Linked DNA regions of Homo sapiens. The protein of the gene in region 4 purifies or fractionates together with the protein of the main gene of each other region. This does not show direct contact. Each region holds a gene or a part of one and is shown on either strand. Other genes may lie near its edges.

Region 1 (4,421 bases), on a different chromosome or scaffold from region 4:
GTATATCCCTTTTCCTCTTGGATTTGATCTTAGAGTCACGTCTAAAATAGTTTCTACTTTAACTTTTTGGGAATTTGACTGTGGCATCACTTAAGAACTTATTTGCAAGAACGCTAGAGACCCACCCAGACATGAGTTGTGTTGATTACTTTATATGTGACCATTTTCATTGTTCTAGTTCTCTTATTCTTGATTGTAGGTGAAATCGCCATGCTTGGTGGTGTGGGAGAAGAGAATGAGAAACTGTGGAGCTTTACCAAAAAGGCCTCGCACATTCAGTTGGACAGGTAAAAGAGTTTGTGCCTTTTTGACTTACTTTTAAGCATTTAAACTATGTCTGCTTTTTTCCTCCCTCTGTTCAAGATTCTCATTAAGGGAGATAGAGAATATATATTTCAAGGTTTTCAGACCATGCGTGGTGGTTTACACCTGTAATCCCAGCACGTTGGGAGGCCAAGGCGGGTGGATTGCTTGAGGCCAGGAGTTTGAGACCAGCCTGGCCAACATGTTGAAACCCTGTCTCTACTAAAAATATAAAAATTAGACGGGCATGGACCTGTAATCCAGCTACTTGGGGAGGCTGAGACAGGAGAATTGCTTGAACCCAGGAGGCAGATGTTGCAGTGAGCCAAGTTTGTACCACTACACTCCAGCCTGGGCAACAGCAAGACTCCATCTCAAAATAAGTATAAAATAAAATAAAAAATTATCCGGGCATGGTGGCGTGCGCCTGTAAGTCCCAGCTACTCGAGAGGCTGAGGCAAGAGAGTCGCTTGAATCGGGGAGGTGGAGGTTGCAGTGAGCTGAGATCGCACCACAGCACTCCAGCCTAGGGGACAGAGTGAGACTCTGTCTGAAAAAAAAAAAAAAAAGCGTTTCACTGCCCATTACCACTGTTACTAATGAAATAGTTGTGATTATAATCCTTGGTATAGTATTACTACACATTTTTTCAATCCAATATATAAAAGAATTGTTAAATTTTAGAAATTATCAATGTATTGTTGAAATGGAGTCATATTCCAGTAAACCAGATCTTTTGGCTTAAACTGGACAGTTATGATCCTACCAATTTTCTGTCTTACTTATATTTATTTGAAAAGAGAATCTTTGTGTAACATCTTGCAAATCCCCTACTGCCATGAGAATTAATTACTGGGGGCTTCAGGATCTTTCAAGCATGTGACTGCTCTAAAATATTTCTTGTATTTTTTAACTCTCAGTTAGAGGTCTCATAACACATGAGCTTTGTTTCCTCAGCTTACCAGAAGTACCTTTACTGGTTGATGTGCCTTGTTTATCTGCTCAGTTGGATGACTCAATTCTTAACATAGTGAAAGACCACATTTTTAAGCATGGAACAGTAGCATCTCGCCCACCAGTACAGATAGAAGAACTAATAGAGAAACCTGGAGGCATCATTGTACGATGGTGTAAGGTATGTAATTCAGAATTCTAGAAATGACTTCCACATTATGGGTTTGCGATTTGGAGGCCTTTCAGATTTTTTCGTTGACTACTTTTAAATACATTCTTTTCTTCTCAAACAAAAATCTCTTTTACTTTACAGTTAAAATGAAGTCACATGGAACACTGAGGTAGCTCTTCCAGTTTTATTTTTATTTTATTTATTTATTTTTTGAGACAGAGTTTTGCTCTTTCACCGAGGCTGGAGTGAAGTGGCGTGATCTCGGCTTACTGCAACCTCCATGCCCTCCCCCGCCTGCCGCTTCCCCCGGGTTCAAGCCATTCTCCTGCTTCGGCCTCCTGAGTAGCTGGGATTATAGGCACCTGCCATCACACCTGCCTAATTTTTGTATTTTTTGTAGAGACGAGGTTTCACCATGTTGGCCAGGCTGTTCTTGAACTCCTGACCTCAGGTGACCCACTCGCCTCGGCCACCCAAAGTGCTGGGATTATAGGTGTGAGCCGCCGTGCCTGGCCTTTTTTTTTTAAATGAAGCCTTGCTGTGTCGCCCAGGCTGGAGTGCAGCGATGCAACCTCCGACCTCAGGTGATCTGCCCACCTTGGCCTCCCAAAGTGCTGGGATTACAGGTGTGAGCCACTCCGCCTGGCTGACATTTTCTTTTTTTTTTTTTTTGAGACAGAGTTTCGTTGTTGTTGTTCAGGCTGGAATACAATGGCACGATCTTGGCTCACCACAACCTCCGTCTCCCGGGTTCAAGCAATCCTCCTGCCTCAGCCTCCCAAGTAGCTGGGATTAAGGCATGCGCCACCACACCTGGCTAAGTTTGTATTTTTAGTATTTTTGTATTTTTAGTAGAGACAGAGTTTCTCCATGTTGGTCAGGTTGGTCTCAAACTCCCGACCTCAGGTGATCTGCCCACCTCGGCCTCCCAAAGTGCTGGGATTACAGGTGTGAGCCACTGTGCCCAGCTGAGATTTTATTAAAAGGAAATTTTTTTTTCTTTTTTTATAAACATGCTGTTGTTATTTTCTAACAGGACTGTCATTCCATTTTTATTATTTTTCCTATCAGTGGACCTAGTTATTTCCAGTTTTTTGCTATAAGTATTTTTACTTGTGTTTCTTTATGGACATATGTGAAGTTTGTAAAATATTAATATTTACCTAGGTGTAAAATTATGAGGTCTTCTTAGAGTATTGGATCCATACGCTGATAGGTAATAACAAACTTTCCACAAGATGATTCTATCAATTTAGCCTTCCAAGGAGTATATGAGTTTCTGTTATTCCATATCTTGACCAATAATTGGCATTGTGAGACTTTATATTTTTGCCTAAATGTACCTTGTTGTGGTTTTATTTATTTGTTTGTTTTTGAGACAGGGTCTCACTCTGTCACCCAGGCTGGAGTACAGTGGCACAATCATGTCTCCAGTCTCAATCTCCTGGGCTCAAGTGATCCTCCCGCCTCAGCCCCCAAGTAATTGGGACTTCAGGCATGTGCTTCCACAGCCAGCTAAGTTTTGTAATTTTTTGTAGAGATGGGGTTTTGCTGTGTTGCCTAGGCTGGCCTCAAATTCCTGGGCTCAAGTGCTCCACCCGCTTCGGCCTCTCAAAGTGTTAGGATTATAGGCATGAGCCATCATGTCTGGCCTTGTTGTGGTTTTAGATCGTATTTGCCATATTACAAATTAGGTACAAATTAGGTTGAATATTCATAATATACATTTTTGGCTATTTATGTTTCTTCTCCTGTAGAACGCTTATTTATGTCTTTTACCCATTTTTCTATTGGGTGGCTAATTAACATACAGAATATATGCAGGACCCCTAAAAATTAATGGGGGTTCTGTATACTGTATGTTAATTATCTCTTGGTTATTATGAATGATGTATGGTTGTGGGAGACTTACTGAATCTTGAATGTTTTATCTTTGGCATTGATTAAAAAACATGCCATTTCTTCAAAGGAGGCAGACTTTTTTATATCAGACTGGGAAATACAGAACACATGGTTCAATAAAGAAAAGAAGGGAGCCCAGGCGCAGTGTCTCACGCCTATAGTCCTAGCACTTTGAGAGGCTGAGACGAGAAGATTGCTTGAGCTCAGGAGTTAAAGATCTGAGATATGGTGAAGCCCAGTCTCTACAAAAAATACAAAAAATTAGCCGGACATGGTGGTGTGCACCTGAAATCCCAGCTACTTGTGGGGTGGAAGGAAGAGGATGGCTTGAACCCGGGGTGTGGAGGCTGCAATAAGCCGAGATCACGCCACTGCACTACAGCCTGGGTGACAAAGTGAGACCCTTTCTCAAAAAAAAAAGAAGGGAGATAATGATGTGATGGCATATTTTCTATGGCCTTCCCAAGAATACCCCATATTCAGCATGTGGGCCTGTCTGCTTGGTCCAAAATGGCTCCGTTCAAAATTTTTAAGCAGTGATGCTGAGAGAAGTCATTTTCTGTTTTTTACCTAACATAAAGCTTTTCTCCCTAGGTGGATGATGACTTTACAGCCCAAGATTACAGGCTCCAGTTTCGTAAATGTACTTCAAATCATTTTGAGGATGTATATGTAGGTTCTGAAACTGAATTCATAGTATTGCACATAGACCCCAACGTTGATTACCAGTTCAGAGTCTGCGCCCGAGGAGATGGCCGACAGGAGTGGAGTCCTTGGAGTGTCCCCCAGATAGGTCATTCCACATTGGTGCCTCATGGTATGCTGCTAACCTTTTCTCTCCTGAAGCCTAACTATATATTAGAATACCTGTATTCTGTGCTAAGGGCAGCACACTGACAACCAGCTATTCTAAGCATAGATCCTGAATTGATAAGAACAACATGCACCATGTCTTTTACTCAGATTACCTCATGTGATTTTTGTTTTCATCAGTTCTTCAGAGTCCAAAAAAAATGCTGGACAAGATTTTTAGCCTCATTGAAAACCAAAGATTGAAAATATTATGTAGGGCACTGATATTCCTTTTTAT
Region 2 (4,421 bases), on a different chromosome or scaffold from region 4:
GCATCTGCAGGCGAATGGGCCGGCGCAGGCCCCAGGAGATGTTCAGGAGCCCCTCCACAATGAACTCGTCTTCTTCCTGCCCACAAAGCAATCAGAGTAGTGAGCCTAGAAAAGCCCCCACAGAAGCCAAGACCATGCTGAGGGACAAATGACACATTCTTCACATGTCCTGGCTGGGGGCCCCCAGACTGTATTCACAGGATAGGGGCAGCTGCCCAGTTCACACCGCAGCTCTGAGATACTTTCTGACGTCAACTACTCCAGATCCTGAAGCTGACCTCACAGGTCAGCACAAAAGTTGCTGTGAAATTCAAATACATAGGTATAAATTATAAAAAGCATTGTTTTTCTTTTTATCCTAATGACTTTTAAAGAAAGCGGAATACATTTCTTAAAATAAGTGAGATTAGCCTTGTTAACAGAAGCAAGAACTGGAGTTAGCTACGTCCCATCCCCTACTACGGAAAATGATGTCTCTTTAGCTACAACATCTGTTTAGCAATCCAACCTGGTGGTTGAAGGAAATTTAAAGCAACATTTGCCGAAGTTTATTCTACAGAACACTAGCTCCTCTAGCAGATGAACTGCTGTCTTTAAAAGGGTGTCAAGTGATCATGAGCTGGGAGAGGCTGTGCTAATCAGATTTCCAAACAGCAGAATGTCCCAGGTTCTGTAATAAACTAACGGGCTAAATGACAACTCTCCAACAGGTGAATAAATCTTGCAGGAGTCCCCAATTTATACTCAAAGGTTGCTGACTAATTAGACATTAAATGTAAAACCATTCTAGAGGCATTTATATGTTCTATCCCGAAGAATTGGGACTCGCTTATGACTATGAAATCCTTTAATCATGAAGCACTTTTAATCATTTATTCTATAGGACATAACCCAGGAAAGCTATTTAAGAACTAAAATCTTGCATGGCCCAGCTGCTGATTAGTAAAAGCTTGAAGGGCAGTTCCTAAAAGAATCGGTTCTCCTCCCTCTAGTCTCAGAAAAACCTTTTTGGAGCCATGTTTTATGGGCTATTCAAGTGTTAGATCTGGGTCATGGAACACATCTTCAGGACAAGCCCCATAGGTGAAAATAACATCAGCCCATTGAGCAACTAACTAACTTGGGCCCCAAAATCATCCTCAAAGAGGGAGGAAGGAATAAAAGAGGGAAGGAGAGAAATGAAACAATTTTACGGTGCTTAGGCGTCTCAGGGAGGAAGGCTTTATGTAAACATAGGCAATTTACATGGCCTTCCCCTGGTCAAGGTGGGCATCATTCCTTTACACAATTGTAGGTCAAAATTTAACCCAAAACAGGATTTTGTCTAAGTGGAGTGGTTTGAGGGACACAGAATAGGCCACTACATCCCACATACTGTCCCCAAGCAACCTGCCCTAGCAGCTGAAATTCCACCATCTGTTATCTGTTTCTATGGTTAAATCGCCACAGCTTGATAACCTGAAAATGTGTTTCAAAGGGCATTACACATAGGGACCTTTTTATCAGTCACAGGCGCTTGAGTATAAAGTACCCTACCAGACTCCTTTATAACTCATCATCTATCTGATAACAGGCTTTAGAGAAATGGATACAGGATGAGTAAGCTCAGTTTCAGGATGGGAATCAGATGAGTAACAAAAGCAACCTAGGATGACCAAGTGTGGGGACGGGCCCACTATCAGTGGGGACTCTGCTAACATCCAGAGCTTATGTGCTTTGCCCAGGTCACTGCAGTGATAGGACTTGGGCCCAAATGTTTAAACACAGAGGACTGGGTGGGGTTCCCGAATTGCCCAACGAGAGAACGTCTGCTTGGGAGCCACCTGGAAAGGTCATTTCATGAAAGCTCCCTCTGGAGAATCTCCCCCATGAGACTGGGCTAGCCCTGCCACATTTCTACAGGAATGTCTCTGGAACACATCTCTGAAACATTCATCCTTTTTGGAACAAAACTGGGCCTGGAGTCTTCTTCCAAAGAACCCCAAGGACTCTCACTAGCAACCTAAATAAGAAGCAGGAGAGGCAGGGTTCTCTTGGGACCTCAGGGACCTTCAGACCCAGGACACATGGTGACAAGCCCTGGACTAGCCAATCAGGGCCGTCCCTGGGGACTCCTTACCTCCCGGTGCCGGAGCTGTAAATTCTGGCCTTCATAGTACAAGTTGTAGGTCTTCAGATGCAAGAGAAGTTCATTTCTTAGGGGGAAAAATAGAAGAGATATAACATTATCAGCTGAAGCCACTTATAATGCAGTTGTTCCCTCTTTCTCTCACCTCTCACCTGGCCTTCAGTCACCCCACTTTGGGTAACTGTCCACATGTACATACACACACATGCACATGCACACAGAGTTCTGCCACCACCACCCCATAACCATCTTCCCCCAGGATCAAAGTCAAGAGTGAGCACCACCCCAGAACAATGCTTAAAGTAAGGAGCAACTCCAGGACACCAAGGCAGGCCTCGTCTACCGACAATACTCCCAAACTCAAGCTGAATGAGCAGGTGTTAATAAGCCATGGATTCACTGAGGCGAGCACTTCAGAGCCCACACACAGCGATTCTCCTGCATGGCTGTGGCCTTTTCTCCCTCAAGCACGCTGTGAGTGAGGAAAGGACAATAATGATAGGCCTTCACAAGACTCAGAAGCTGGCTGCGCGCAGTGGCTCATGCCTGTAATCCCAGTACTTTGGGAGGCCAAGACCAGCGGATCACTTAAGGTCAGGAGTTTGAGACCAGCCTGGCCAACATGGTGAAACCCCATCTCTAACAAAAATACAAAAAATTAGCCAGGCGTGGTGGTGCACACCTGTATTCCCAGCTACTCAGGAGGCTGAGGCAGGAGAATCACCCAAACCTCAGAGGCAGAGGTTGCAGTGAGCTGAGATCGCGCCACTGCACTCCAGCCTGGGCAAAAGACTGAGACTCCATCTCAAAAAAACAAACAAACAAACAAAAAAAAAAAAACTTGCAAACTCCCATCAGCATCAGAATGGGTGCATAAAGGAAGCAATAGCCACACAACGGAAAATTATCAGCGAAGAGAATGTGAATGAACTACACAACTACACGCATGTGTGTGACTCATGGGAATTATAGGATATGTGCTTTTCTTGTGTCTAGCTTCTTTCACAAAAAAGCACAGATCATATTCCATTGACAGAAAGTTCAAAATGGAGTGTTAGAATTCAGGATAGTGGTTCACCTTGGGGAGTAGTGACAAGAAGTGGGCATGAGGTGGCTTCTGGGCCCTGGCAATACTTTTTCAGTTCTAAAAATTAAAAAATAAAAACCCTTAGAAACTCCCCCTCTGAAGCCCAGCACTGGACCTCCTTAGCCACCAAGTTTTCCAAGTGGCTGCACTGGGAGTACAGCTCTACTGCACGTGGCCAGAGAGGAGATTTCACCCCCTTTGTGATCAGGGAAATCCCTCATCAACCCTGAGAATGCACAAGTCAAGTTTCATCTGAAAGTGCATGTTTTGCACTCCAGGTGGGATGAGAGGGGCGAGAGGTGGAGGGGGCCACTGTGCGCTTTTGTCTAGTCTCAAGTAAGAGGTGGCAGAGTTCAGCCTCTCTGAACCCAGCCATTCAGTGGAGAGATTTTGGACCACGCCAGGAGTCAAGACCCACTGGAAATGCCAAGAAAATCCTGACAAGTTAAACCTAGATAAAGCAGCATGATTCTATGCAAGCTGAAATAAATTTGTGGAAAATGTGATTCGAAATCACCTAAGACAAAAGGCCGTTTGGTACTTTTGAACACACAGATCTGAAACCGGGAGAGAAAATCATTGGTTGGTAGAAGTCCCTGGGGAAATCTGTCCACAAAGAGATAAGAATGGTCAGATGTCACAAAACATGTGTCAAGTGTGCCTAAGGACTTCCAACAATTTAGTCCCAGATAAATTAAATATTTCGTTAAGATAGAGAAATCCCAGCTGGGTGTGGTGGCTCACGCCTGTAATCCCAGCACTTTGGGAGGCCAAGGCGGGTGGATCACCTGAGGTCAGGTGTTCAAGACCAGCCCGACCAACATGGTGAAAGCCCACCTCTACTAAAAATTAAAAAATTAGCTGGGTGTGGTGGCGCATGCCTGTAATCCCAGCTACCTGGGAGGTTGAGGCAGGAGAATCACTTGAACCCAGGAGGCAGAGGTTGCCATGAACTGAGATCACGCCACTGCACTCCAGCCTAGGTGACAGAGGGAGAGTCCTTCTAAAAAAAAAAAAAAGAGATAGAGAAATCTTATGCTGGAACTTCCAATTCAAGGGTCTATTTTGGCTCAAGCCCAGTCACATTAGCAAAAAGCCTGAGCTCAAGAGACTTTAGTGCACAGAAAGCAATTAAATTGTCCCCTTCTATTCAGAGGGCATTAGCCAGACCCAGAGCAGCCGAGGGACACACTACTCCAGCCAGGA
Region 3 (4,421 bases), on a different chromosome or scaffold from region 4:
CTGAGTTGGTTCTTCTCCCATGCCTGCCCCCACCTTCACTCCACGTTCCATACAAGCCAGCTGAAAGCTGGGTAGATACACCTGAGATAGGGATGGAGGGTTGTGGGCTCCAACACTAGTTACTGTGAATAGCTATAAGAAAAGACCATGTACACACATATGGTTTTAGGACAGAGAGTGCACACAGCCTCAAGTAATGAGTGAAGAGATTTTTTAAGAGCTCAGAAACATCAACAGCTTGGTGTACTGACAGTCAGCAGAAGCAACATGTGGCCACTAAGAAAGACTTGTTCAAGATTAGACTGCTTCTTGCTAATTTTCAGAAAAGACTGTATTTGCTGAGCACTTCATGTGAAAAATGTAAAATGAACATCATTTCAATGATTTCAGAAAGCGGTTTTGAAAACAAGGGATAATAATTTGGAGGACTACTTTTGCAATTCATTTTTGAATAATAAAGTATATCTAAATTCAGAAGCCAATAAGCAGAATATACAAGGTAACACTTTCAAAAATATTAAGTTATATGCTACATCTAAGATCTACCGCTTAGCTCTTAAATCAGCTCTTTAGAGTTTAAAAAGGGTTGCTCATAATCTCAGCCTTCCTATGTTTAAACACTAAAAACAGTTTGGCTGGATCCTTGTGTAATACTACTTTGACATTTTTATCTACCAAAAAAATATGGCACTAAAGAAGGCTTGTGTCTTATTTGTCTCATCACTTGTTTGCAATGATAAAATGTAACAGCACTTGGTATTATAAAAATTAGGATTATCTTTGTATCACAGCTTAAAAGGCAGGAGTTCATAGGGCACAGACATAACTATTTTAGAGAGAAACATCCATTTTCCAACTATTATTGCTTTATAGTACTATTTGGCAGAAGAAAAAATATTTCTCTCTCAACAATATGCTTTATTTCTCCAGTTACTATTAAGTCGGACATGGGTTCAAATTCCCATTCTGCTATACTGATTCTGCAGACGGTTAATTTTTGTGAATTTTAGTAGAAATGTTAACCTGTCAATTTTATAAAACTGTTGTACAAGTTAAATTGAGTAATACAAAATGGCTTATGCCTATGTCTGTCTCAAAAGTAAAGTTCTACAATTAACACCAATTTTAATACTCTTAATAAAAAATTAATATTTGTAGAAAATAATTTTCTTATAAAGAAGAATCAAAGTTTTCCTCTAAAATGTGGTATCATTAATATTTCAGATTAACCTATTTGGGTTCTACAACATGGCATTAAGTTCTAGTAAATCTTAGGGAAAGGCATTTATTATTTTGGTCACGAAAATCTAGAAACACAAATGAAAGCTTTTGGGCAAAAGCAGGAGGTCACTGAAAGTCATTTAGAATTTTTAGAGTGTCCTGAATTTGGAGTGGGGAAAGACTGTGAAGATCATTAATGTAACCCTACACATTTACCCCCCCAAAAAAAAAGAAGAGTGAGGGCTGAAGTTAACAGGATTCACTCAACTTGTATAGCCAATAAGGCTAAGAAGATATGAAAATCTAGGTCTTTCAACTTAGAGTCCAACTGTTCTTCACATTCTATGTACCACTCTGCTTTTAAAACATTTTGATTGCATTTCACCCTTTTATGGTTTACAGTGCTTCTTCCACATCCAGGTGACTTATTTTTCCAAAATTTTGCTATTTCAACAGTTTTTAGGCAACTAATAACCGTCCAGTTAGGTTCCTATCCAAACAACTATTTTCCCTTTCTTCCTTCCTATGAAAATCCTGATTTACTCCTGAATATGGCAATATATTCAATAAAGTCCACTGAAGCCCTATTCCTGCTCCAGGGGATGAACCAGGTGATGAACCAAGACTGATCTAGCAAAAAGCGAACCCCATTCTGCTTTGCTGGTGAATTAGTTTAGAGTAGTCTTGTAACCAATGGAACCTTAGGAAGGAATTTTGTGGGGACTTTCGAAGAGAGGTTTTCTCCTTTTTTTAAAAAAAAAAGAAAAGAAAAGAAAAGAAAATGTACAGGAGAGTCTCTTTTCCAATGTCTTTGGTTGTCTCCCATAAGTACATGATACAGCAGTCATCTCTTTATTATGAGAAAGCCAAGAGTTTCACAGAGAAGCTCACCCAGAGCTCTGACATTGCTGTTTTAAACAACCCCAAATTACCATGCTCTAGATTAAATTATTACACAAGCAAAAAACCTCTATTTATTCAGGTAGTCAATTATTATATCTGTGGCCAAAATCTGCCAAATATAAAACTCTAGTATTTGCTAGTGAAACTATGTTACATGACTTCTAGAAGACTTCATGTCATACCAAATAATATGAATATATAATTTTTTAAAATTAAAGTTTGTTAAAAATCTATTAGGGAAACAAAAAGTTGACTTAAAAAAATACAATTGACAAATCTTTAGCCAGACTAAGAAAAAAAGAGAAGAAGATCCAAATAAAATCAGAAATGAAAAAGGAGACATTACAACTTACACAGAAATTACGACTTACACAGACATTATGACTTATGCAGAAATCCAAAGGCTTGTTAGTGGTTACTGTAAGCAACTATATATGCTGATAAACTGGAAAATATAGAAGAAATGGACACATTCCTAGACATATACAACCTACCAAGATTGAAACAAGAGGAAATCCAAAACCAGAACAGACCAGTAACAAGTAATGAGATCAAAGCTGTAATAAAAAGTCTTCTAGTAATGAAAAGGCCAGGACATAATGGCTTCACTGCTGAATTCTACCAAACATTTAAAGAAGAACTAATACCAATCCTACTCAAAATATTCTAAAAAATAGAGGAGGGAATACTTCCAAATTCATTCAAGGCCAGTATTACCCTGATACCAAAACCAGACAAAGACACATCAAAAAAAGAAAACTACAGGCCAGTATCGCTGATGAGTATTAATGCAGAAATCCTCAACAAAATACTAGCACAACTGAATTCAACAATATATTAGAAAGATCATTCATCATGATCAAGTGGGATTTATCTGTGGGATGCAAGGATGGTTCAAAACACAAAATCAATTAACATGATATATCATATCAAAAAAATAAAGAATAACCATATGATCATTTCAACTGATGTTGAAAAAACATTTGATTAAAAAATTCAATATCCCTTCATGATAAAAACCCTCAAAAAACTGGATATGGAAGGAACATATCTCAACATAATAAAAGCCATATATGACAGACCCACAGCTAGTATCATGCTGAATGAGGAAAAACTGAAAATCTTTCCTCTAAGACCTGCAACACAAGGATGCCCACTGTCACCACTGTTATTTAACATAGTACTGGAAGTCCTATCTAGCTCAATCAGACAAGAGAAAGATATCAAAGGCATACAAATTGGGAAGGAAGAAGTCAAATTATACCTGTTTGTTGGTGATATAATCTTATATTTGGAAAAACCTAAACATTCCACAAGAAAACTAGAACTGATAAATTCAGTAAAGTTCCAGAATACAAAATCAATGTACAAACATCACTAGCATTTCTATATGCCAACAGTGAACAATGTGAAAAAGAAACTAAAAAGTAATCCTGTTTACAATAGCCATACATAAAATTAAATACTTAGGAATTAACCAAAGAAGTAAAAGATCTCTATAATGGAAACAATAAAACACGAATGAAGAAAATTGAAGAGGACACCAAAAAATGGAAAAATATTCCATGTTCATGGATTGGGATGAATCAACACTGTTAAAATGTCCTGGCAATCTATAGATTCAATGCAATCCCAATCAAAATACCAATGGAATTCTTCACAGGAATAGAAAAAATACTAAAATTTATATGGAACCAGAAAAGACCCAGAATAGCCAAAGCCACCCTAAGCAAAAAGAACAAAACTGGTGGAATCCCATTATCTAACTTCAAATTATGCTACAGACCTATCGTAACCAAAACAGCATGGTACTGTCACAAAAACAGACACGTGTACCAATAGAACAGAACAGAGAACCCAAAACCAAATCCAAACACCTACAGCAAACTCATTTTTGACAAAGGTGCCAAGAACATACACTGGGAAAAGACAAGTCTCTTTAATAAATGGTGCTGGGAAACTGGATAAACACATGCAAAATCATGAAACCAGACCCCTATCTCTTGCCATATACAAAATTCAAATCAAAATGCATTAAATACTTCAAACTGAATCTAATACAAGAAAACACTGGGGAAAATCTCCAGGACATTAGTCTGAGCAAATATTTCTTGAGCAATAGCCCACAAGCACAGGCAACCAAAGCAAACATGGACAAATGGGATCACATCAAGTTAAAAAGCTTCTGCACAGCAAAGGAAGTAATCAACAAAGTGAAGAGACAACCCACAGAACGAGAGAAAACATTTGCAAACTACCCCTCTGACAGGGGACTAATAACCAGAATATAAGGAGCT
Region 4 (4,071 bases):
ACTTCCCTAATGGTTTAGCTCCAGAGAACAGCCAAATTTAAATTACAGTTGAGCTGATGATTAAGATAGGTCATACTGGCTGGCTGTGGTGGCTCACACCTGTAATCCCAGCACTTTGGGAGGCTGGGGAGGGCGGATCACTTGAGGTCAGGAGTTTGAGACCAGCCTGGCCAATATGTTGAAACCCCATCTCTACTAAAAATATGAAAATTAGCCAGGTGTGGTGCTGCCTGTAATCCCAGCTACTTGGGAGGCTGAGGCAGGAGAAATGCTTGAACCCAGGAGGTGGAGGTTGCAGTGAGCTGAGATCATGCCATTGTACTCCAGCCCGGGCAACAGAGCAAGACTCCATCTTAAAGAAATAAAAATAAAAAAAATAAAAAAAATTTAAAAAGGTCATATTAAGCTGCCAAAAGTGTTTAGTGTAACTAAAATGATGAAACTGATTTTCCTGCATAATAACAAACTGCTTTTCATGGTATGCTCTAGAACAGTTCCAAAAACATTATACTTTTGCAGTATAGCTGGAATAAACAGTGCTCCCAAAAGAACCACTCTGAAGATGAACTCTTATTTGGATGTTAAGGCATGACTTATTCACCTTAAAAAGAAAGTTCTACAACTCAATATTTGTATCTCACATATTCTACCATTTCAGTGGTTATCAAAACCTGTCTCAGAGAGGGGTAAACAAAAGTATAAATGAAATGTTGTTTTGCTATTTTCCCATAAGCAAGGAAAATGCTAATATATAAAATGGAGTCTGGTGGTTATATATGTAATATATAAATATCCACATCATCTCTATTTCCTGATAAGAGACTGTAGTGTTTTATCCATCCTGATAAGACAGGCAGTAACTCAGTCTGAGATATATTATACATAAAACGTATCTTCTCCTACCTAATACATTTTATGGTGACCATTTAGAATTTACAAATGACTAACAGAGGGAAGGTAGAAAGAGACTGCAATTAAAAGTCTTCCAATTTAAGGTAAATTAACCTCCAAAACCTCTACCAGCAACTAACATGCTTGTTAATTTAGTGCAGTCTAATGCCATGGTTTTTAAGAGAAAGGGAATAATCAAGTCAGCAAATGAAAGCCAGTAGCACCATCTACTGCTAATTAAAATATTTTCACTCTTTTTGTTATTAATTTCTCTCTACCACCACTACTCCATCAATTAAAGTAATTCCAAAACATTGCTTCGTATCAACATTTAACCAAAAAAAGCATTGTGTGTGACAATAATACTATGTTAACTTACTACTTTATATTTTATGGGATGCTTTTATCAAAGGATAAGAAAACCAACTGTTGCTTTATAGCTACGTATTAATATAGAGAGCAAGGGGGAAAATAATTATCTTGGTTACTTACAAATTAATTAAAGAAATCCAAAAAGAATCCAACAGACATTTATCAGCAAACTCTGCTGCAGAACAAAGCACTGATCCTTATATTTAAAAGGGCATCTTACTAACTTTCATGGGAACCAACCAAATCAACCTTTTATTACATCAGTTCTTTCACTTTCTGATTTTTTCCTTACTTGTAGCCATGTAACACCATGTGCAATGCCAGGCCTCTCCCCTAGAGAACTGCTATGCTTTGTTACCATATATACACATATATACATCTCCTTACTTCCCAGTGACTGTGATTAAAGAAATACTCTAAGCAGGCACCTGAGATTCTGGCACAGTGAAAACAAACTATCTACATATAGTGGGAAAGTAGGTCTTACTACTAAAAACAAGTACAGTGTACTACTGTATAAGGCTTGAAAGGGCAAGATTAATTTTTCACTATTCTCTCTATACTTGGCTATTGCAACTCCTTTTTTACTAGATTGATATGAAGTCAAATACAATATGGAAGACTGAGTAATTCTGTGCTTCATTTTCCTATATGGACAAGATTCAAAATCACCTCACAAATTTTATTTCTGAATCAACCCATAATGATTCATATTATCTATCTGAATACAAAAAGATTTAAGGAAATTAACTAGCTCTGACTGCAGTTTATAAATAAGCTTTACCAATAAATGTCCAAGATATTTAACTCTGCCAGGCTTTCCTGTTACTTCTACTGTTGGTACTTGGTAAATAATTGCTAGAAATGAAGTGGAGAAAAAGGCAGTTTCTAGTCAACATAATTGTAATGGCATTAAATTGTATCACTGCTCTACTTTAATGGCAAAACAAATTCATTTAATTTTAGATTCTTTTCTACTGAGTGTTTTTAATCTATACTATTTCAGAGCAAGCATTTCTTCCTAGATGTGAAAAAGGTATATGTTTCAACTGAAGGAAGGATATATATTTCTAACTGAAGAAAGATTTATCGAAAATGACAAAACTAAAACTGGATTTCTAAAAAGGGTATTTTCTAGAATAAAACTGAAGTGGAAAAATTAATATTTATTCTAAAAACTAAGTTTCTGAAATTGTTATTTATGGTAATAATTCACTAGAAAGTCATGGCGAATAAAATTTAGAAGTTAATAACTACTGAATTAGCATTTTTCATTATCTAATACTGCTGCAAAGAAAAACATTTCCTTTCAGGGTGGAAAAACCAGAAGTCAGAATGCTTCAAACTGGACCTATAATAACCAAAGAAGGTATGGTATCATCTTAAAATGACAGGCAAACATCAGCTCCATTCACTGAATGGAAATGCTAAGAAGTGATCAATTTCCCCCAACAGTCCTTAAATTCCATGTTTAATGTCTGTACCTAAAATTAATAATTTATTTTTAACTTCTCATGGAAGTTGATTCCTAAAAGGAAGTCTCTAAGACTTTGTTTATAAGTAATTGATTAAAATCTTCATGCCATTCTATTCAAAGGTTTTCAGACAAAACTTTCTAGAACTTGACTCCCCATCCCTAACTCCTCATACATACGAACATCTCCATGCCCCCAGCCAAATATACATTCCTATCCCCTTCTCTTCAAAGTAGAAGGGAATTCTGCAGACTTACGGCTCATTTGGCAATTACTAGGAAACCTCACAGTTCAGCATCACCTCTGAAGATGGCAATCCTATATATAACCTGAATTTTTACATCTACAGTGCAGTTAACATGTAGAAAGAAGCCAAAATGTAATACATTTCAACATCCTCAAGTTTCAGTATCACAGATATCAAGAGGTGGGAAAAGACCTGCTTGTAGAGCTTTAAGCATTGTTGAACGTAATATATTACCATCAATATAAAAAATAATTAAGAAATATTTTTTATGTTCTACATGCATACCTTTACAAATTCTGTTTCTTCAAAGCAGTAAAGGCTGGAAATCACCATTTTAGGTAAACTATGGCTTTTATCATAGATATGTTACAACATGCACCAGTAAGTGCCCTGGGTAGTAATCCTAATATTGTTTCAAGCCCTGTTCAGTTCTATATCTATGTTTTGCACCTCAGAAGTGAGCCTGCCAAGGCACTTAAAAACATAACTCTTTTGGGGACTTCATAAATGGGCCACAATTTATACCACACAGAAACCAATCCATCGGCAGTTCAATCAACAAGCACTTTCTTGCAGCACACAATATTATTAAAAAACTCCTCAAGTAACCAAAACCAAGTTTAAAAACACTAAGATAAATTTACCCTTATCAAGTGTATAGAGAATGGTTCTTGGCTTCCCCTAGCAATAGAATATGGTTTCACATAATCAGAATAAAGAAAAAGGAACCCAAACAAGCCCCCGCCCCCAAACCTAGGACAAAAACAATCCAGATAAAAACAAAATATAACAAAATCCCCAATACACTCCACACTGCTTCATTTGAGGAACAATTTGCACAGCTCTGCATCCTTTTATCTGTCTTTTGAGGTGAGTTTTTCAATCAGTTCTTGGAGTGGTGCAAGTTCTCTTCTATCAATAAGGTTGAATTCCTATGCATGATATAAAGAAAGGCAGAATAAATAGCAAAAACATTATTTGCATCTTATTCCAAAGTAAATTACCATGAACATTTGTTGGAAATTAGCTTTTGAAGTACATAAAAGTAGATTATTTTTTTCTTGTTCACTAGGTCTGTGTCTTGGG
Region 5 (4,421 bases), on a different chromosome or scaffold from region 4:
CAGAGTCAATCTTCACTGAGTTGCTCAGAGTCTCTTTTAGTTCTTCAGTAAGATCCAGAGAGCCAGGTGTTACCTACAGGCAACTGAGTCACTCTTCTGCACACCCTCAAGTACACAAGTGAAAGAAAACAAAGGCCCATCTCTAAGGTGACCCACAGCTTCAAACTGCTTCAGGCTGTTGTGCAAGGAAACAAGGAAAGTTCTTTCGGGATCCCCCTAGACAGAGGGAATGGTATTCACCAGGCCTCCAGAAAACGGGACTCACCAGGAGAGCAGGGCACAAAGGATATCTGAGCCCTGGCCAGATGAGGAGGCAGCAAGAAGACTGGAGGTTGGGAAGGACACAGAGAAGCCAAGACGGAGTCAGACATATAACCAGAGATGTCAACTGGGCCACAAACAGCATCTCCAAAGAGCTCCATTTGGAAGAATGTATCTGAGGTCTACCAATACTAGCCCCTTGCCACAAACAAACAAACAAAATGCCAATTTCCCACATGAAGCCAAATCAAAACCCTAGTAGCAGTGCTTATTAAACGATTTAAAAAAAAAAAATCAAACCTCACAAAGTAAGGCTGACTCCCAAGAGTCATCTAGCTTTCCTGGAGACACAGAGACACATAACAAGAATGCTGGGAAATGATCAACTACAAAGGACCATGAGAGAAATTTTGGGGGTGACAGAAATGTCTTGATTGTGGTGATGGTGACTTCAGGCATCAGTCAGAATTCCTAGGAATGTACACCTAAAATGAGCTTTACCATATGAGAATTATATCTCAATAAACCTGTCTTAAAAACAAACACAGAAGCATGCCTTCAGAGTGTTTCCCAAACACGCCCTTATGCCACCATGCTTCAGAATCTACGGGGTGACATAAAGGCTTCCAGGGCACTAGAGAGGAATGCTGTTACAGACAACACCTGTAAGAAAACGTTTTGTGTAACAAAGCTACTTACATGTATCAACTAATACTTCACATAACCTTGCCAATCAGCTAACAAACATTTTCTAAAAAGAAAACACTGAGCAATTTTTTTCCTCTAGGTCCCTGTACAAAGCAACTCTTCTCTACAATGAAAATATGTACGTGATACCTTCTGTTCTGAGCATAAGGTGACCAGGACAAATACACTAAGTCACATCATCAAGGACTTAACTTTAACCTTATAACTCTTAGAACAGTAGCCATTCAAAAAGGACCAGGAAGTTTCAAAGGCAGCACAGAGGTGGGGAACACTCCGAACTCACTTGTTTTGCCCCAAAAACAAGAGGACCTAACAAGAAATTATTAGTATTATAAAAACAACTGTTACAATGAAATAATCTGGGGAAAAGTTTAAATTGTAAAATGGCCAGTATCATGTAATTATTTCCATTTTTTTCTGACTAGGGCAAGGAGGTATTATTTTCCTCATATTACCAACCAAACTGAATTCCTTTCAAAAAAACAATTTACTTACTGTTTCTTCTCATTCATTTCCCAGGCTTCAAGTATTCGTTCTATTAATTGACATTTTTGGAAAAGCTGAAAAAAAAAAAAAGAATATTCCAGTTAATACTTCAAAGCATCAAAACTTTAAAGTGAAACAGAACTCTAGGTTAAAGAGAATAGTAGTATGCATAATCTAGCAAGCTAAATGTTACTAAGCCAAATGCAATGTGATCATCAATCTACTGCAGACACCCACAACACTACAGAGATTCAAATCAGGATCCACACCCTCCACAGAACATCTACAGGAAACTCAGTATTATAGGTAGTGCAGTTAACTACCTATAGTTAACTATAAAGGAAAGCCAGGTTTTATTAGCTGTGAAAATTCAGAACAGAAATATAAAACCTGAGCTAAATTAAAATGGAATAAAGAAAACTATGCCTTGGCAAAAATTTAACTTAGAATCCAAAGTAATGCTTGTACTTTTAAAATGTGAGCACGTCTTACTTCCAGATGAACTAACATTACTGCATTAATATTAAAAACAGGTGGGTTTTGCCCAAAGTCTGCAAGTCAGTGACAACTGCTGTAGGCTGCAATACTGGAATGTGCAGGGCTAGTTCTTCTCAGGTGTCATTTGTCTTTCCCATCAACTTGGCTGTTCCAAGCTAGCCTTTTCTACATTTTAGGTTTGCGAGTAAACCAAGTGTGGGCTAGAAATTTTAAAAGTACCATAGAACTACCAAGCAAGAAAAAATCTGAAGACTGACTTAGTAAAATTATCTCATATTTGACAGAAGAGAAAAAGAGACCCCAGGAAGACTCTCAACATCACAAAGAACTCAGTTCTCCTGACTTTCAGTCACGTATTCAGCAAAGAAACTACACTCTGGTCAGCCAAATAATAGTGCAAATGTTTTCCATAGTATTTAAATTTCTATGATTCTTCAAATCATCAAAGAATTTATATATCTTCAAACCTATTAATTTTACCAAATAAGGAGGCCACTTAGCTTTTTTCTTACAAGACTGTTCATTTAATAGTTATTTGTCCAGTACTTGATTTATATAATGATTTATATGTTAAAAGTGAAACGAACACATGATTGTCAAATATTTAGACTCTGAAATCTAACCTCAAGCCCTTTAAACCTCAATTCACATCACAGTCAAGTGGAAAACTGCTATAACCAGGAGAGAGTGGGAGAAAAACGAGACCAAATAAGCTTACATGTTTTAATAACAAATTATCACCAGTGGAGTCTTGATCGGTAATTGTGGCATTTTCTGTGTTTTCAAAAGGACTTGCAAGAATCAGTGCAATACAAATTTCCACTTGTGTATGCAAAAAGTTATTCCATGTATACTTGAAGAACATGTTCTACAAAAAAGAAAAACCATGTTTTATTCGGTTACCTCAATGTTTAAGCCAATACTTAAATACATTTACAGAACAGTGATTTAATAAAGTAAAAATGATGTGCTCTCAGTCCAAAAGGACCAATTAAAAGGAACCTGAGTTCACATTAGTACTTGCATAACCACAGTTTCATTTTCTGTGGTTTCAGTTACCCACAGTCAACCATGATCTGAAAATAGGTGAGTATAATACAGTAAGACATGCTAATCCAAGAGATGACATTCACATAACATTCATTACAGTATAGATTTATAATTGTTCTACTTTATTATTAGTTATTATTAATCTCTTCCTGTGCTTAATTTATAAATTAAACTTTGTCACAGGTATGTATAGGAAAAACACATAGTATATATAGGGTTCGATAGCTGTGGTTTCAGGCATCCAAAGGAGTCTTGGAAGGTATCCCTCATAAATAACGAGGACTAAATGGGGATGTGAAGTATTGCTTTAGAGCCTAAATGGCGTGCTATCTGCTTATCTGACATGCCAGAACTGGTATGGAATCTAGTAAAAAACCAACAACAAACATACAAAGACAAGAGTACGTTTCTCCAAGAGAAAGGGAGTATCTTTTTTCTCTTCAAAGCAACTAACACAAATAGTTAGCGTGGTAAATTTTCTATAATTTTCAAAAAAATTTATAAGAGGCCAGGCGTGGTGGCTCATGCCTGTAATCTCTGCACTCTGGGAGGCCGAGGCGGGCGGATCACGAGGTCAGGAGATCAAGACCATCCTAACACGGTGAAACCCCGTCTCTACTAAAAATACAAAAAAATCGCTGGGTGTGGTGGCGGGCGCCTGTGGCCCCAGCTACTCAGGAGGCTGAGGCAGGAGAATGGCGTGAACCCAGGAGGCGGAGCTTGCAGTGAGCCAAGATCACTGCACTCCAGCCTGGGCGACTGAGCCAGACTCCATCTCAAAAAAAAAAAAAAATTGTAAGAATTTCATTTTGATGCAACAAATATTTACTGATGGTTTTTGTGCAGGGTATTGTATGAGATGCAACATGGCAGACAGAGATACACAAAAATACGGTCCACAGTCTTGAGGTGCTCATGACTCAACTCCAGCATACAAAAACTAGAGCTATCAGCAAAAACAAATGAGGATACGAGAGGCAGTAACGTGAATCTCCTGGAAGTACAAGGGTTTTCAAATTACTTGAAAAGGTAATAGCATTACAAAAGGGAAAGAATTTCTAAAAGTACAAAATGCCATATTTTGGAAGTCAATTTAGTATGTCATATTTAGGAAATGGTTGGGTCTGGTTATCTAATCTCAAAATGAAGAAGTAATGAGTAACTCCTCCAGTAGTCTCATCAAATTTAGTCTCATCAGAAGTAGTCCTAAAGATTAACAGAATAAATTAACAATAACTGTATATTGTTATTAGTAAAATTAAAGACCAGTGATCAATGACTTAGGAACGTTATATTCCCGGAGTTTTATACACTAGAAGGTAGGACAAAAACTACGTCCCCAGAAGGCAATGACCATGCTAGCTATCAAAGAAACTGTAATTCTTTAAATCTTCATCTCTTTTTCCAAATTGCTCCTG
Region 6 (4,421 bases), on a different chromosome or scaffold from region 4:
TCTCTTCTGAGATTTTCTGCAAATCGTGCGACTAAACACTTGAGCTTCAGTGGATCAAAACTGAGGACAGATTGCCAATCAGGTTCTTACAAATTCTCAGTTGAACACTCTTTCTGCTGCCTACGTAGTTTTTTGTTTTTGAGACAAGGTCTCACTCTATTGCCCAAGTTGGAATACAGTGGCACAATCAGCAGTGGCGCGATCACAGCTCACTGCAACCTCAACCACTTGGGTTCAAGCGATCCCACCACCTCAGCCTTCTGAACAGCTGGAACTACAGGCAAGTGCCACCACACCTGGCTAATTTTATTTCTGGTAGAGATGGGGATCTCCCTATGTTGTCCAGGCTGGTCTTGAACTCCTGAGCTCAAGCAATCCTCCTACCTCAGCCTCCCACAGTGCTGAGAATACAGATGTGAGCCACTGTACCCTGACTGTCTACATAGTTAATAGGGTACACACTTCTTTTGTTAACACCATGGAAGCTCTGTACTTTGGCTTCTTCCATAATTTTAGAAAAAAAAAAACCTGACATATCACTATTGCCTTAAGTGAAGCTGAAAATGATATAGGAAAGAAGTCTGCAGGTTATGACCAATCCCCAAGATTTTCTCAATTATATATCTACGTGAAGCAAGATTGTTATGTAAACTTGCCATAAGAGAGCCCTAACAATGAGCTCAGGTTGCAGGCAGGGATCTTGAACTTGGCTCAATAGTAACTGCCCAGTATGTGTTTATCAGTGTGAACTGAAGTCCCAGTGTAAAGTCATATAGGGATATTTTATTCCTTGAAAATCAATATAAGTCCTATAATAACTAAAATTATCTTATTCAAAACATATGTCATATGGCTGGACGCAGTGCCTCATGCCTGTAATCCCAGCACTTTGGGAGGCCGAGGCGGGCGGATCACAAGGTCAGGAGATTGAGACCATCCTGGCTAACACGGTGAAACCCTGTCTCTACTAAAAAATACAAAAAAATTAGCCGGGCATGGTGGCGGGCGCCTGTAGTCCCAGCTACTTGGGAGGCGGAGGCAGGAGAATGGCGTGAACCCAGTAGGCAGAGCTTGCAGTGAGCGAAGATCGCACCACTGCACTCCAGCCTGGGTGACAGAGCGAGACTCCGTCTCAAAAAAAAAAAAAAAAAAAAGTCATATATTAGCCATATATAACAATATGTATTTTATATATTATACATGTAGCATTAGTTACATATATATAGTAGGTGTGTGTGTTTTTATAACATTAGTTTTAGTACTGTTTTCACTGAGCTAATATCATAGTATGTTATCCAAAATATTGATTATTTTGCAAAAGAATCCAAAAGTTGTATTTCAATTGGTGTTTATTTTGTGAATGAAAATAAAAAGTCACCTGTAGAAAGGAGATAAATATTACCTAACTTTACACGTATTAAAAAAATTATATAAAAACAATAAATTCTCAAAATTTCTCTAATTGATAATGGCAGACAAACTGAAGAGTAAGAGAGTTCAGATTATCTTTGCTTTGTTTCGTTTTGAGACAGCCTCACTGTCATCCAGGCTGGAGTGCAATGGTGCAATCTCGGCTCACTGCAACCTCCACCTCCCGGGTTCAAGGGATTCTCCTGCCTCAGCCTCCCGAATAGCTGGGACTACAGGCAAGTGCCACCATGCCCAGCTAATTTTTGTATTTTAAGTAGAGACGGGGTTTCACCATGTTGGCCAAGATGGTCTCGATCTCCTGACCTTGTGATCTGCCTGCCTCAGCCTCCCAAAGTACTGGGATTACAGGCATGAGCCACCACACCTGGCCCAGCCTATCTTTATAATGAAAGAAGATAATTCAAAATATAAAATTTAAATCTAAAGGGTTCTGCAATTAATGTTTCCAAATCTCTCAATATCTGTCTTAATTGTGCTCAAGGAAAATCCAAATTCATAATCTTGACAGTTCTATTTCCCTGAAGGGGCTTCCTAATAAGCTCGCTCTCTCTCTCTCTCTCTCTCTCTCTCTCTCTTTCAACCAAATAAAAGTTTTAAAGAATTAGCTAGTTTGCTTTTTTTCCTTTCTTGAGACAGAGTCTGGCTCAGTTGCCCAGGCTGGAGTGGAATGGAGCGATCTTGGCTCACTGCAACCTCCACCTCCTGGGTTCAATCAATTCTCCCTGCCTCAGTCTCCTGAGTAGCTGGGATTACAGGCCCCCACCACCATGCCCGGCTAAATTTTTTTTATTATTAAACTTTAAGTTCTAGGGTACATGTGCACAACGTGTCGGTCTTTTACATATGTATACATGTGTCATGTTGGTGTGCTGCACCCATTAACTCGTCATTTACATTAGGTATGTCTCCTAACGCTATCCCTCCCCCCTCCCCCTACCAGTGCCCGGCTAATTTTTGTATTTTTAGTAGAGACAGGGTTTAGTTGGCCAGGCTGGTCTCGAACTCCTGACCTCAGGTGATCCGCCCGCCTCGGCCTCCCAAAGTGCTGGGATTACAGGGGTGAGCCACTGCGCCTGGCCTATTTTGCTGTTTATGACTAAGTTCTGCTTCTGATCCCTGAGGTCCTAGCATTCTCTGGAGTGAGCATACAGAGATATATGTAAAAGGATGTATAACAGCAGCTTAAAAACAACTCTAAAGTCCAACGATAGAGGAAAAACTGATACATCAATTATGCTACATCCATATGGTATATGAAGCAGCCATGAAAATAACATTAATAAAGTGAAAAAATCAGGTATGTCCCCATTTTAGTGTGCACGTGTTTGTACATATATAAACACACATAAACACACACACACACATACAAAATGGATGAGAATGGACTCTCAAATTTGTGCAGAACATTCACCTTCAGCAGATTCTAGATTCCCACTCCAAAATATTTTGATTAATAAATCTGTGGTGAGGCCCAGCATTCTCCTTTTTTTTTTGGTTTTTTTTTTTTTGAGACGGAGTCTCCCTATGTCGCCAGGCTGGAGTGCTGTGGCATGATCTCGGCTCACCACAAACTCTGACTCCTTGGTTCAAGCAATTCTCCTGCCTCAGCCTCCCGAGTAACTGGGATTACATGCACACACCACCACGCTCAGCTCATTTTTGTATTTTTAGAAGAGAAGGGGTTTCACCATATTGGTCAGGATGGTCTCGATCTCCTGATCTTGTGATCCGCCTGCCTCAGCCTCCCAAAGTGCTGAGATTACAGGTGTGAGCCACCCCACCCGGCCGGCAATCTACATTTTTAATGAGAACCCAGGTGATTCCAGCTACACTTTGAGGCACAGATCTAGAAAGATGCACACCAAAAAGTTAACAGTGGTCTTCTCTCGAGCATAAGATTTTCAATTGTTTGGGAGGAGTGAAGGAGTGAGGATGTGGGGAAAATAATATACATAAAGCATGTGTATGACTTGTGTAGCTTTGTTTTCCAAAGAGGAAAGTAAAATAATATTCAGAATCAGAGAAATAGGAATTCTTACCATAAAATCCATAGACCTGTGTTATCTGTCTACTCTCATGATTTCCTCGCAAAAGTGTAATACGATCAGGCCATTTAGCCTTTAATGCAAGAAGGTAAGTGAAGGTCTCCAAACTATAGTAACCTCTGTCTACAAAATCACCCTGTGAAGTAAAAGTTTACAGTTACAAACAATACAATAGCCACAATATTCTTTTCAAATTATATCAAACTGTACAAACATATAGTTTATAACTACAATAAAGAGTTACATACTGAATTATTTGGAAATTTGATTTTAACAAAAAAATAAAATACACGTAAACAAATTTTTTCTATTAAATGTTTATACAAACAAGATTTTTGATTCCAGGGAAATCTACAAGAATCTGCTGTGCCATTCTCTCAAAAACTTTCCCTGAAAAAAAAAACCACCATTTTTTTTTCTTTTTTTTCTTTTTTTGAGACAGTATCACTCTGTCACCCAGGCTGGAGTGCAGTGGCACAATCTCGGTTCACTGCAACCTCCGCCTCCCGGGTTCAAGCGATTCTCTTGCCTCAGACTCCTGAGTAGCTGGGATTACAGGTACAAGCCGCCACCACACCCGGCTGATTTTTGTATTTTTTGTAGAGACGGGGGTTTCACCAGGTTGGTCAGGCTGGTCTCAAACTCCTGACCTTGTGATCCACCCACGTTGGCCTCCCAAAGTGCTGGGATTATAGATGTGAGCCACCACACCTGGCAAAACCACCATTTTTTCAATCCTCTATTACCTACATTAGTTGATTTGGTCATCTGCTAACCAGTATTTTTTAAGTTTTTTTTTTTTTTTTTTTTAGATGGAGTTTCACTCTTGTTGCCCAGGCTGGAGTGCAATGGCGTGATCTTGGCTCACTGCAACCTCCCCTTCCTGGATTCAAGTGATTCTCCCACCTCAGCTTCCTGAGTAGCTGGGATTACAGGCATGCACCA
Region 7 (4,421 bases), on a different chromosome or scaffold from region 4:
AGCCATGACTAGCAATAAAATCATCAAGGTAAAGACTGTTCTTTACTACAGGGGCAAAACTGAGAAATGTCTACATTTCAGGAGACAAAAGGGGATAAAGAACACAGAGAATGAGCAGAGCTGTGTCACAAAAGCCAGGTGAGAGGAGAATTTTAAGAAACAAGACTTTTAAGGAGAACAGTTAGATAAGGCCATAGGATTTGACTATTAGCAACTCACTTGTGACCACTGTCAACTAGTTCAACTAGGGTGTTTGAAGCAGATGCTAGGCTGCAAGTAGGTAAAGGAGATTTTACACCGTTTACAATTCTGTACCTTTTGAATTCTAAACTACATGAATGCATTACCTATTCAAAAAGTTTAACAATAAAGAAAATTTAAATTAAAAAGCCACACTATGGGCCGGGCATGGTGGCTCACGCCTATAATCCCAGCACTTCGAGAGGCCCAAGTGGGTGGATCACCTAAGGTTTGGAGTTTGAGACCAGCCTGGCCAACATGGCGAAGCCCCGTCTCTACTGAAAATACAAAAATTAGCCAGGTGTGGTGGTGGATGCCTGTAATCCCAGCTACCTGGGGGGCTGAGGCAGAGGAATTGCTTGAACCCAGGAGGCGGAGGTTGCAGTGAGCCGAGATCGCACCATTGCACTCCAGCCTGGGCGACAGAGTGAGACTCTGTCTAAACAAACAAACAAAAAGCCACACTATGAACTCATTTAGTCATTTCACTTCCTTTGGCACATAGCTAAATACATATTTCCTTGACTGATTGTATGGATGGAAGAAAGGAATGGTGGAAATGTACAGTAGGCAGGAAGCTCCCCCCAAAACAAAGGTTTAAGTTTGAGTAACGAAGGGTCAGAGATCATATAGTGATAGCAAAAACTCAGGTGAAATGGTTAGCCAGTAAGACCAGGTGAATAGGGTGTCAAGCACAAACAAGGGAAAGGGGTGAGACAGAGAAGACACCATCCCTATTTTACCAGATTTCAAGTTTACGTAGAATAACAGGGCCTTTTAATATGGCTCCAGTTGACCTGTTCAGACTCAGCTGTCATCGCTTCCTTCCTTCCTTCCTTTTCTTCCTCCCTAATGACTACACACTGGCACACACCCCCTCTCATACTCCAATGTCAGAGAACGATCTACAATTCTCTGTACGCTTCCTTTTCACTCATTCTCTTCTCCCTACTCAAATCATCCCATTCCACTCCAATCAGCCCATCCGCTTAGCAAGTTCTTACTCACCCTTCAAGACTCACTTGGCTTGCAAGGCATCTCCTCTTGAAGACCCTCCCTGACTTACCCAGGCAGATTTAAGCTCTCCTCCTCCTCTGCTTACAAAATCTGTTCCTTTCCCTTGTATCCTGTACTCACCTCCTTCAGAGCAATGACCCTACCAATTCCTAACTGCTTGTCACTAGATTCCAAAACTTCTGGGGACAAAAACTTTGTCTTTTCATCTCTATGTTTCCTGCCCCTGACACTGTACCTGACACAGTAGGTAAAGAGCCAATAGCTGGGTAGACGGACGAGTACACACATATCATTTTAATTAAAGCTTTTAAAATTACCTTTTTCCTAGGTCTCAATTTCTCTCTCCACTCCTTTAATTCTTGGCTATGTTCCTCATCTAACTCCTTCAGTTTCTGAGTCTCATGCTCAACCAACAAGTGGCATTTTTCATTCTGAAAATAAAGTTGGGATTTAAAAAAATTTCAGATCAACTAAGCAATTTTTCACAAATACAATTATCTTCCATAATAATAAATTACTCATCAAATATCATGCTATTACTGAGATTCAAGTTTTCCTCTATAAAAACCAAGGGCCATGAATTAGGAAATGAATCATAGCTTCATTTTTACAAGTTTAGAAGCTAGAACTATTACATACCATATAAAAAGAACTTAAAAAGAACTAGCTTGAGCTTTTGTTTTTCCTTTCTAAGAAGATTTGCTCATAAAACTGACACTTCAGAAGGCAGCCTGCATACATTTTACCCGTGAGTACAGAATGTGGGATCTGGTACTAAAGGGTTGGCCTAATAGATCTATTCCTGTAAAAGATCTATTGGCCCATTAGGCCAATCTATTAGGATCTGTTCTACTATAGTAAATTAAGCAAATATATAGATACCCACATTTATACACTACTCTGAAATCTTAAACATTTTAGATGGGCTGTACATTCTATGTAAGGTCCTAAATCAGCCCTCTCTCGAATAACTTTTAAATTTCCTAGGAGAAAAATTCCCATATATTTAACTTATCACTTATTTCAAAAACCTAGAAGAAAATAAACTATTTCCCTCTAAATGGAAAAGAAATTTTAAATTTAGAATCTGACAAAAAATTCAGAATATGACAACAAAACTGTCTACATCATTTTGAAACTCTCCACATCTTCTTGCAAAATATACTAAAAACCATACTCAATACTGCTTTTGAAAGACTCAATTTCGTAGGTTACAATTTAGCTTTATGTTTACATTAATCATGGTTATATATAATCTACACAAGTGCCTATGATACCAAACTGATCTTCATTTGGATCTGTACAAAAAACAGAACCTCTCAAACCCAGCATGTTCGTGTATGATGCAGTTGACTTTGGCTAGCTACTGTTCTCTCAAAAGCAGCCACTTGTGCTGCCGCATCCTATGGGCTTTGCTGTCAGGCTTCTGTATCTGACCTGCAGCTGATGCAGTTCGCGGACATTGGCTTCACACTGCAACTGAAGATCTCGCATTTGATTCTCATGTTTCTGATGCTGAGCCATTCTCTCATTTTTCTGCCTCTTTTCTTCTTGTGCAGCAAACTATAAATAAGAAAAAAAGATAAACTATAGTTCAGAAGCATGTGATTTCTATATATTCTGAAGATATAAAGGAATTTAACAAAACAAGGCACAATAAACTGAAGCTACAAGTAATAATATGCTGAGACTCAAACCTGGAGTCCACATCACAGCTTCAGAGAAGAGCAGGAACTTCTGATTAAAACCTTGATCCTCCTATCTGCTTAGTGATCTGAGTTAATTTGTGTGTGTGACCATGACTACAGAAGTATCACAGTGAGGCCATATATCTTGACTTGAAAAGTTGTCCGAGTCATCTCATTCCCAGGGCTGGTCTTAGGACCAGTCTAGCTCAGGAGCTGGTATGGGGTATAGGAGGAAGGGCTTTGCTCTCTGTGACCACCATCCTGGGGAAGACTAATTGGTATATGCCATGTATCTATAGTCCCAGCCCACAGAATTAAAGTGAACATCAACAAGCCTAAGGTGGCTCTAATTGTTTAGAAAGAAAGGAATTTTGTAGAACTTCTAATGGTCATTCAAAAATTTTAAACCTAAAAGAGAAGAGACTAACTTGCATATTTACCTGTTTAATTTTATCACGGTCCTGATCTGGTGTGGCTGTTGAGTTAATTCTCAAACTCTTCTTAAACATGGCCATTCGAGTCTTGGCTTCACTGCGCTGAATCTTGGGCAGTCTTGCTCTTTCTTGAGTCTGTCTGTTTTTCAATTCCTCAATAAGTCTTTGATTGTAACGCTGCATTTGCTCTGTTTCCTATGAAAGTTTTAAATAGAATCCAGTGACGCAGAAACAATAGTCAGTACCCACATGCATATTCAAATATGTCATTTTGTTATTGTTGTTTCCTATAATTACCCTCTCCCTTGTTGCAGTGACCAGCAAAATACTAGGCACAAAATAACTTGTAAGAAGTTAGGCTAGGTCTGGTGGCTGACACCTGTAATCCCAGCACTTTGGGAGGCTGACATAGGAGGATCACTTGAGCCTAGGAGTTTGAGACCAGCCTGTGAAACATAGTGAGACCCTGTCTCCACACACAAAATTTTTTTTTTTAATTAGCAGGGTGTGGTGGTGCATGAATGTACTTGGGAGGCTGAGGTAGGAGGATCCCTTGAACCCAGGAGTTCGAGGTTAAGTGAGCTATGACTGAGTGCCACTGCACTCCAGCCCAGGTGACAGAGCGAGACTCTGTCTCAAAAGAATAAAAAGAAAAGAAAGTTATTAGTGATGAGAGTTTTATACTGCAACTCTTAATAAGTACAAGGAGTCCATACTTTAAGATACTTGAACCACAAATAGAGCCAAAATAGCTACCTTTGAGAGCCGAGATGAAGATTACAAGGTGTAAAACGTCTTTAAGCATTGTAATTAGTTACTTTCCTTATAATTTGTAGAAAAGAAGTTTGCAATCATGATCAAGATACAATTAATTACTCCAAACTTCATCCAAGAAATTGTAGGATAAAAGACAGAAAGGAAATCTAAAATTCATTATCTAAGAAACTTAAGTTTCAAAACTAAATAGCTTTGCAAACTTTAAAACGAACAAAAAAATGAAGAAATTTTCCTTTCATTAACCTTCTCGTGGCGCTTAAGTAGC

Evidence for each region.
Region 1: the proteins of MOB1B (region 4) and CRLF3 purify together in Homo sapiens (affinity purification with mass spectrometry; one large-scale study listed by BioGRID and IntAct). This does not show direct contact.
Region 2: the proteins of MOB1B (region 4) and RASSF2 purify together in Homo sapiens (affinity purification with mass spectrometry; one large-scale study listed by BioGRID and IntAct). This does not show direct contact.
Region 3: the proteins of MOB1B (region 4) and ANKRD28 purify together in Homo sapiens (affinity purification with mass spectrometry; one large-scale study listed by BioGRID and IntAct). This does not show direct contact.
Region 5: the proteins of MOB1B (region 4) and PPP6R3 purify together in Homo sapiens (affinity purification with western blotting; one study listed by BioGRID and IntAct). This does not show direct contact.
Region 6: the proteins of MOB1B (region 4) and PPP6C purify together in Homo sapiens (affinity purification with western blotting; one study listed by BioGRID and IntAct). This does not show direct contact.
Region 7: the proteins of MOB1B (region 4) and SLK purify together in Homo sapiens (affinity purification with mass spectrometry; one large-scale study listed by BioGRID and IntAct). This does not show direct contact.

What each region holds. Positions count from the first base shown.
Region 1 is NC_000017.11:30,793,177-30,797,597, reverse strand, and holds part of CRLF3 (cytokine receptor-like factor 3), read left to right. Parts: intron 1-199; coding exon 200-287; intron 288-1,260; coding exon 1,261-1,438; intron 1,439-3,925; coding exon 3,926-4,148; intron 4,149-4,421. UniProt on the Homo sapiens protein: May play a role in the negative regulation of cell cycle progression.
Region 2 is NC_000020.11:4,795,891-4,800,311, forward strand, and holds part of RASSF2 (ras association domain-containing protein 2), read right to left. Parts: intron 2,196-4,421; coding exon 2,120-2,195; intron 77-2,119; coding exon 1-76. UniProt on the Homo sapiens protein: Potential tumor suppressor. Acts as a KRAS-specific effector protein. May promote apoptosis and cell cycle arrest. Stabilizes STK3/MST2 by protecting it from proteasomal degradation.
Region 3 is NC_000003.12:15,787,465-15,791,885, forward strand, and holds part of ANKRD28 (serine/threonine-protein phosphatase 6 regulatory ankyrin repeat subunit A), read right to left. Parts: intron 1-4,421. UniProt on the Homo sapiens protein: Regulatory subunit of protein phosphatase 6 (PP6) that may be involved in the recognition of phosphoprotein substrates. Involved in the PP6-mediated dephosphorylation of NFKBIE opposing its degradation in response to TNF-alpha.
Region 4 is NC_000004.12:70,981,826-70,985,896, reverse strand, and holds part of MOB1B (MOB kinase activator 1B), read right to left. Parts: intron 3,918-4,071; coding exon 3,840-3,917; 3' UTR 1-3,839. UniProt on the Homo sapiens protein: Activator of LATS1/2 in the Hippo signaling pathway which plays a pivotal role in organ size control and tumor suppression by restricting proliferation and promoting apoptosis.
Region 5 is NC_000011.10:68,568,148-68,572,568, reverse strand, and holds part of PPP6R3 (serine/threonine-protein phosphatase 6 regulatory subunit 3), read right to left. Parts: intron 2,822-4,421; coding exon 2,672-2,821; intron 1,530-2,671; coding exon 1,465-1,529; intron 1-1,464.
Region 6 is NC_000009.12:125,154,771-125,159,191, forward strand, and holds part of PPP6C (serine/threonine-protein phosphatase 6 catalytic subunit), read right to left. Parts: intron 3,613-4,421; coding exon 3,471-3,612; intron 1-3,470.
Region 7 is NC_000010.11:104,018,887-104,023,307, reverse strand, and holds part of SLK (STE20-like serine/threonine-protein kinase), read right to left. Parts: coding exon 4,400-4,421; intron 3,575-4,399; coding exon 3,386-3,574; intron 2,821-3,385; coding exon 2,695-2,820; intron 1,689-2,694; coding exon 1,575-1,688; intron 1-1,574. UniProt on the Homo sapiens protein: Mediates apoptosis and actin stress fiber dissolution.